Linked DNA regions of Homo sapiens: region 1 is reported to be linked to region 2. The links are microRNA targets in miRTarBase. Many come from high-throughput screens and were not tested one by one. Region 2 holds a microRNA gene; the other region holds the end of a gene's coding sequence.

Region 1 (3,000 bases), not on the chromosome of region 2:
CCCAGGCCAATAATGTGCTCTTCATGCCACAAAGCTGAAAAGCACTCAGGAACCAGGTGCAATCGGCCTAAGGGACCTGTCCAAGGCCACCCAGCCCTTAAGAAGCAAAGAAGGGCTGACCTGTCACTACCCACTGATATCTCAGGACCTGCAGGGGCAGGGTTAAATGCACATTCCCCTCTCACCCACACGGCAGCAAGAGAAAGAGTTAGGGTCCTGGGGGCTGCAATCTGGGCAATGCCTAAGCAGACAGCCTCAGACAATGAAGGGCGAGTCAGGACTCAGTTGTGTCAACTTGGTATATACAACCTCTCCAAGCCTTGATTTCAGCAGAAGCCCACAGAGAAAGCCCTGATGCCTCTGCCTGCCAGTGCCTAAGGGCTGGGGAAATGCCACCTGCCCCAGCTTCATCCAGAAACTGTGGCTGCTCCCTCCCATCTGCGGGGCACCTTGATTAGTCTAAGTGGCCAGCAGACCCCAAGCAGAACCAGGCCAGTGCCTCACACAGAGCAGGCACTAGGATGCCTGTCGACAGCACTCCTTCCCCTCCTTCCCAGGCCCCAAGCCCTTATCGGACACGACTCATTTTAAAGAAAAAATAATATTTATTTGCAATATAAACAAAGTCCCGTTGTTGGTTCGGGATATATATATATATGTATGTGTGTGTATATATATACGTAGGGTCACAAATCTTCCTTCATAAGATCATAAAGCAAAACTGGCCACCTTCTGGCATACCCTCATTTACACAAATCTGGTACATCTTTCTGGGTTTTCTTTTTAAAAATAAAAGAGAGAAAAAGAGAACCATGTACAGCATGGAAGCTTGTTGTCAATTTCTCGACTGTGGCAAGATTTTAATCTGCTGCGCTAAAGAATCCCTGAAAGCCACCCCCGTGAGGTAAGAAGCAGTGGGGCAGAGTTTTTCTGTGGCCTCACTCACATGCTGAGTGCTGCTCCGTCAGGGACCCTGGCCTGACTCCTCTGCCTGCCCCAGGCCCCCATGCAGTCCTGACACCTGGTGGAACTGAGGCTGGAGAAGGAACAAAACTGGAGGAAGATAACGGAATCCGTGGCTTCGTTCTGTGGAGGCAGGGGGAAGTGAACAGAGCCTTACCCCCCTTCTGCTGGTCCATCCTTGCCCCACTTGCCCCCGCCCTAGGGTTGAAATGGGTGCAAGTCTCCTGGCAGTAGAAGGCATGGGCAAGATGAGGGCAGGGCAAGCTTCCAAGGGGACAAGGGGGCTGGGAGTGGCCAGACCAAAGCAACAGCTAGGGAGAAGGAAGAACCTGGAGGTCGGGCTGGGCCCCACCACCTAATGTCTCCCCAGCCACTGGGCCTCCACTCCCAGTTACAACAAGAGAGAGGAAAGGAAGAGAGAGGGAGGGGGGGAGAGAGAAAGAAAGAGAGAGAGAGGGAGAGAGAGAAAGAGAGAGAGGGAGAGGAAGAGAGAGAGACAGACAGACAGACAGAAGTAGTGGCTAAGTATATAAAAGGGCTCAGAGCCCAGGCCTTCTTAGGGGCTGACCCCAGAGGGCTAATGCTACTGCCTGGCAGCCCCCTGCGGCCCACCTCCTGGGGGACAGCGGCAGGGCCCCAGGGTCCCCACCTTCTGCCTCAGGGAGGTCTGCAGGGACCACCAGAGGGATGGATGAGACGGCAGAAAATGCAAAGACCACCATCCAGCCCACCAATCACAACTTGCAGCAGTCATCACAGGCGAATGCAGAGCTAAGTCAGACTGGGCCAAGGGTGGGAGGCGGCACGACTGGGGGTCCCAATACCTGAAGAGCAGTAAGCCACCCCTTCAAGAAGGGCCCGCTGAGGAAACAGAGGCTTCACACATGTGCAAAACGCATTTGGTCAAGGTCAACATGGCGTCTGTCTTTTCCATTAAAAAACAAAAACAAAAACAAACACGATACTTGCTTTTTGAAATTGAACGAAAAACAAAACTGAACATTTCTCTCTCTTGCAGGATCAGGAAAGGGATGAAATACTGGGTTATACAATCCACTGTTGCATGTAGCCTGAAAATAACACTTTTTGTTAAAAAAAAAAAAAAAAAAGAAAAATCAAGAAGAGCTCAAACACTCTTTGTGCTCCAGGGAGCTTGGATTTACCTGCCAAAAGTAAAAAGTAAACTCAGGTCCGTGGATGTGTCTTTAAAAAACAGCCAAACTGGCTGGGCTGTCAGCAGAAAGGAGCGTCCTGGACAGGATGAGGCCCTGGTGGACGCCCAAAGCCACGTGTCCAAGAGCCGAGGCCTCTCCAGCAAGCCCTGCAGTGGGAGACCTTGCCTGCGGGCCCTGCCCCCAAGGATGGTGAGGGGCGCTCCGACACCGATCAGCCTGGGCCTCTGGGCACAGGTGACATCTGGGGGTTCCTCAGGCCAGAGGTGGCGGGCTTGGGCTCTCCCACCTAGCCCTGTGGAGAGCCGAGCAGGGGCCTGGTGCCATGCCCCCCGTGCACCAGGCCTCACGTGGACTCCAGCGTATTGAGTGGGAACAGGTTGTGGTTGGTGGGCGTGGAAAAGTAGAGCTGCTCACTCGACGCGTGGTTGTCGCACGGGCTGCTTAGCCCCAGCGTCCGCTCAAAGTCCAGCAGCTGCCCCATGAAGTTGAAGTTGGGCGAGATGTTGGACTTTTTCCTCTTGACAAAGTCGTAGGCGTCGTTGAGTGACAGGTTCATCTTCTGCATCAGATAGGCCACAGTGACCGTCACTGAGCGGCTGATGCCTGCCAGGCAGTGCACCAGGACACCACACTTCTTGGAGCGGGCTTCGTCTGAAACACATTGGCATGGGTCAGGGAGGTGCCTCCTTCAAGGAGCCTTCCCACATGGGTGGGCAGGTGGGGCTGGGGCACAGAGGGCAGCATGGTGGCTGGCTGGTCTTGCCCGACCCCTGAGGGACCTGGCCAAGCCCAGTGTGGGTAGGGCAGCAACTTGGAATAGAGGTCAACAGCACTGCTGTGGAGAGGGCTCTGCACACTTTAG
Region 2 (3,061 bases):
GAGCGTTGAAGGCATGTGTGTGTATGTCAGTGATGAGACCTTGCCTGCTGGGGGGATGTGTGACAACCTGATGGAGTGTGGGTGCGATCCTGGGGACTCATTCCACCAAGGATGTTGAATGATCTGTGTGATGGAGGCAGAAGGGGGATGTATGGGGTTACCTCTGTTCCTGTGCCACTCTCCTCTTTGCAGGGGTGCGGCTGGAGCAGCTGTGTCAGGCGGGTGGGCAGTGTGTGGATGAAGACAGCTCCCACTACTGCGTGTGCCCAGAGGGCCGTACTGGTAGCCACTGTGAGCAGGAGGTGGACCCCTGCTTGGCCCAGCCCTGCCAGCATGGGGGGACCTGCCGTGGCTATATGGGGGGCTACATGTGTGAGGTAAGGGGGCGCTCCCCAGGAGAGGGAAGAGGAGGTGGGCATGCTTGGGTGCGTCTGGGCACACATTTCTGTGTGGCTTGGTATGGGTATGTCTCTAGATATGTCTGAGTTTTTGCTTTTGTGACTCTTGGTGTATCTGTGGGTGTCACTCTGGGTAGATCTGGGGTGTTTTTTTATTTGTTTGTTTTTTTGAGACAGGTTCTCACTCTGTCACCCAGACGAGTGCAGTGGCGCGATCTCAGCTCACTGCAACCTTTGCCTCCTGGGTTCAGGTGATTCTTCTGCTTCAGCCTCTCATTATAGCTGGGAGTACAGGCACCCACCACCACGCCCAGCTAATTTTTGTATTTTTCATAGTGACAGGGTTTCACCATGTTGGCCAGGCTGGTCTCGAACTCCTGATCTCAGGTGATCTGCCCACCTCGGCCTCCCAAAGTGCTGGGATTACCTACTGGTAGTGCGCTGAACATCTGTGTGTGTCCTTTTGTGCTGGGGTTCTTTGCGTCTTCATGGGTATGTCCAGGTGGGTCTGTGTCCCACTAAGCTGAGTGGGTCCCTCTCTTACCCCACTGAAGTGTCTTCCTGGCTACAATGGTGATAACTGTGAGGACGACGTGGACGAGTGTGCCTCCCAGCCCTGCCAGCACGGGGGTTCATGCATTGACCTCGTGGCCCGCTATCTCTGCTCCTGTCCCCCAGGAACGCTGGGTATGCCAGGGCCAGGGTTGGGGGGACAGGATGAGAGGCTGTCTTCATTCCCTCTTGACCACCCCTCGTTTCTTCCCCCAGGGGTGCTCTGCGAGATTAATGAGGATGACTGCGGCCCAGGCCCACCGCTGGACTCAGGGCCCCGGTGCCTACACAATGGCACCTGCGTGGACCTGGTGGGTGGTTTCCGCTGCACCTGTCCCCCAGGATACACTGGTTTGCGCTGCGAGGCAGACATCAATGAGTGTCGCTCAGGTGCCTGCCACGCGGCACACACCCGGGACTGCCTGCAGGACCCAGGCGGAGGTTTCCGTTGCCTTTGTCATGCTGGCTTCTCAGGTAAGCGTTGGCGAAGGGGCTGGCCTGGGACCCCGCCTGTCATTCCCCCATTGTGGCTGATCTACATGCTCCCGCTCGCTCAGGTCCTCGCTGTCAGACTGTCCTGTCTCCCTGCGAGTCCCAGCCATGCCAGCATGGAGGCCAGTGCCGTCCTAGCCCGGGTCCTGGGGGTGGGCTGACCTTCACCTGTCACTGTGCCCAGGTAGGTGTGGGTGGCGGCCTTTGGAGGAGGAGTAGGGGCGTGGCCTCTGGAGTAGTAGGGGCGTGGCGTCTAGGAGGAGGATGTGGCTTTAGGGGAGACATCGAAGGGAAGGGAGTTTCTGGAAAATGCTGACATTTCCGCCGGGTGTGGTAGCTCACACCTGTAATCCCAGCACATTGGGAGGCCGAGGCGGGAGGATCACTTGAGGCCAGGAGTTAGAGACCAGCCTGGGCAACATGGTGAAACCCCGTCTCTACTAAAAATATAAAAATTAGCCGGGCGTAGTGGCAGCTGCCTGTAATCCCAGCTACTCGGGAGGCTGAGGCAGGAGAATCACTTGAACCCGGGAGGCGGAGGTTGCAGTGAGCCATCACGCCATTGCACTCCAGCCTGGCGACTGAGTGACACTCCGTCTCAAAAAACAAAGAAACAACCCCCTGCCCCGACATTTCCTGGAGGTTTGAAGGGAAAAGGGTGAGGATGGTGATTGGGGGGCGTGGCCTCCTGGGATGGCAGGGCTTATCTGCCAGGTGGGGTCTCCAGTGTGGAAAGGGGAGCGGTTGGGTGGGACATGGGGAGGTTGAGGGGGTCTCAACCTTCCTTAGTCTTGACCTCTTCTCTTCCCCCTCTCTCCCCTTGACTCTTCTTTTCCCCACTCCTCCATTTCTTCTCCTCCTTCCCTCCACTCCCCACCCTCATTTTTATCCCTCCCTCCCCAAACCCGACCCCCAGCCGTTCTGGGGTCCGCGTTGCGAGCGGGTGGCGCGCTCCTGCCGGGAGCTGCAGTGCCCGGTGGGCGTCCCATGCCAGCAGACGCCCCGCGGGCCGCGCTGCGCCTGCCCCCCAGGGTTGTCGGGACCCTCCTGCCGCAGCTTCCCGGGGTCGCCGCCGGGGGCCAGCAACGCCAGCTGCGCGGCCGCCCCCTGTCTCCACGGGGGCTCCTGCCGCCCCGCGCCGCTCGCGCCCTTCTTCCGCTGCGCTTGCGCGCAGGGCTGGACCGGGCCGCGCTGCGAGGCGCCCGCCGCGGCACCCGAGGTCTCGGAGGAGCCGCGGTGCCCGCGCGCCGCCTGCCAGGCCAAGCGCGGGGACCAGCGCTGCGACCGCGAGTGCAACAGCCCAGGCTGCGGCTGGGACGGCGGCGACTGCTCGCTGAGCGTGGGCGACCCCTGGCGGCAATGCGAGGCGCTGCAGTGCTGGCGCCTCTTCAACAACAGCCGCTGCGACCCCGCCTGCAGCTCGCCCGCCTGCCTCTACGACAACTTCGACTGCCACGCCGGTGGCCGCGAGCGCACTTGCAAGTGAGCCCATCCACCCGATCGATCCGTCTGTCTATGCATCCATCCCAGTCTGTTTGTCCGTGGGCCCTGCCTCTCTTTCCACCTGCCCATCCACTTGCCCCGTCTGTTTCTCTGTGCACTCTATCTGCCCATCGGTG

What was found. Region 2 holds the annotated microRNA hsa-miR-6795-5p (UGGGGGGACAGGAUGAGAGGCUGU, at 1,104-1,127, shown strand). A microRNA usually pairs through its seed, bases 2 to 8, with sites in the 3' UTR of a target mRNA and lowers its output. Matches are read on the target gene's strand: a 7mer-m8 pairs with bases 2 to 8, a 7mer-A1 pairs with bases 2 to 7 and ends in A, and an 8mer does both.
Region 1: the mRNA of DUSP7 is a reported target of hsa-miR-6795-5p. Seed matches in the 3' UTR shown: 7mer-m8 at 1,390-1,396.

The regions. Positions count from the first base shown.
Region 1 is chr3:52,048,334-52,051,333 of GRCh38, forward strand. DUSP7 (dual specificity phosphatase 7) reads right to left here. Exons shown (of 3, transcript NM_001947.4): 3 at 586-2,789. The coding sequence ends at 2,482. It overlaps LOC124906238 (a long non-coding RNA gene), which reads left to right. Exons shown (of 2, transcript XR_007095908.1): 2 at 1-625. Among named protein-coding and RNA genes, the nearest start is that of DUSP7, 6.7 kb to the right of the region's middle.
Region 2 is chr19:15,177,388-15,180,448 of GRCh38, reverse strand. MIR6795 (microRNA 6795) reads left to right here and starts at 1,099; the gene lies at 1,099-1,166. NOTCH3 (notch receptor 3) reads left to right here. Exons shown (of 33, transcript NM_000435.3): 20 at 193-377; 21 at 953-1,085; 22 at 1,167-1,424; 23 at 1,508-1,626; 24 at 2,359-2,924. RefSeq lists a silencer at 2,635-2,804.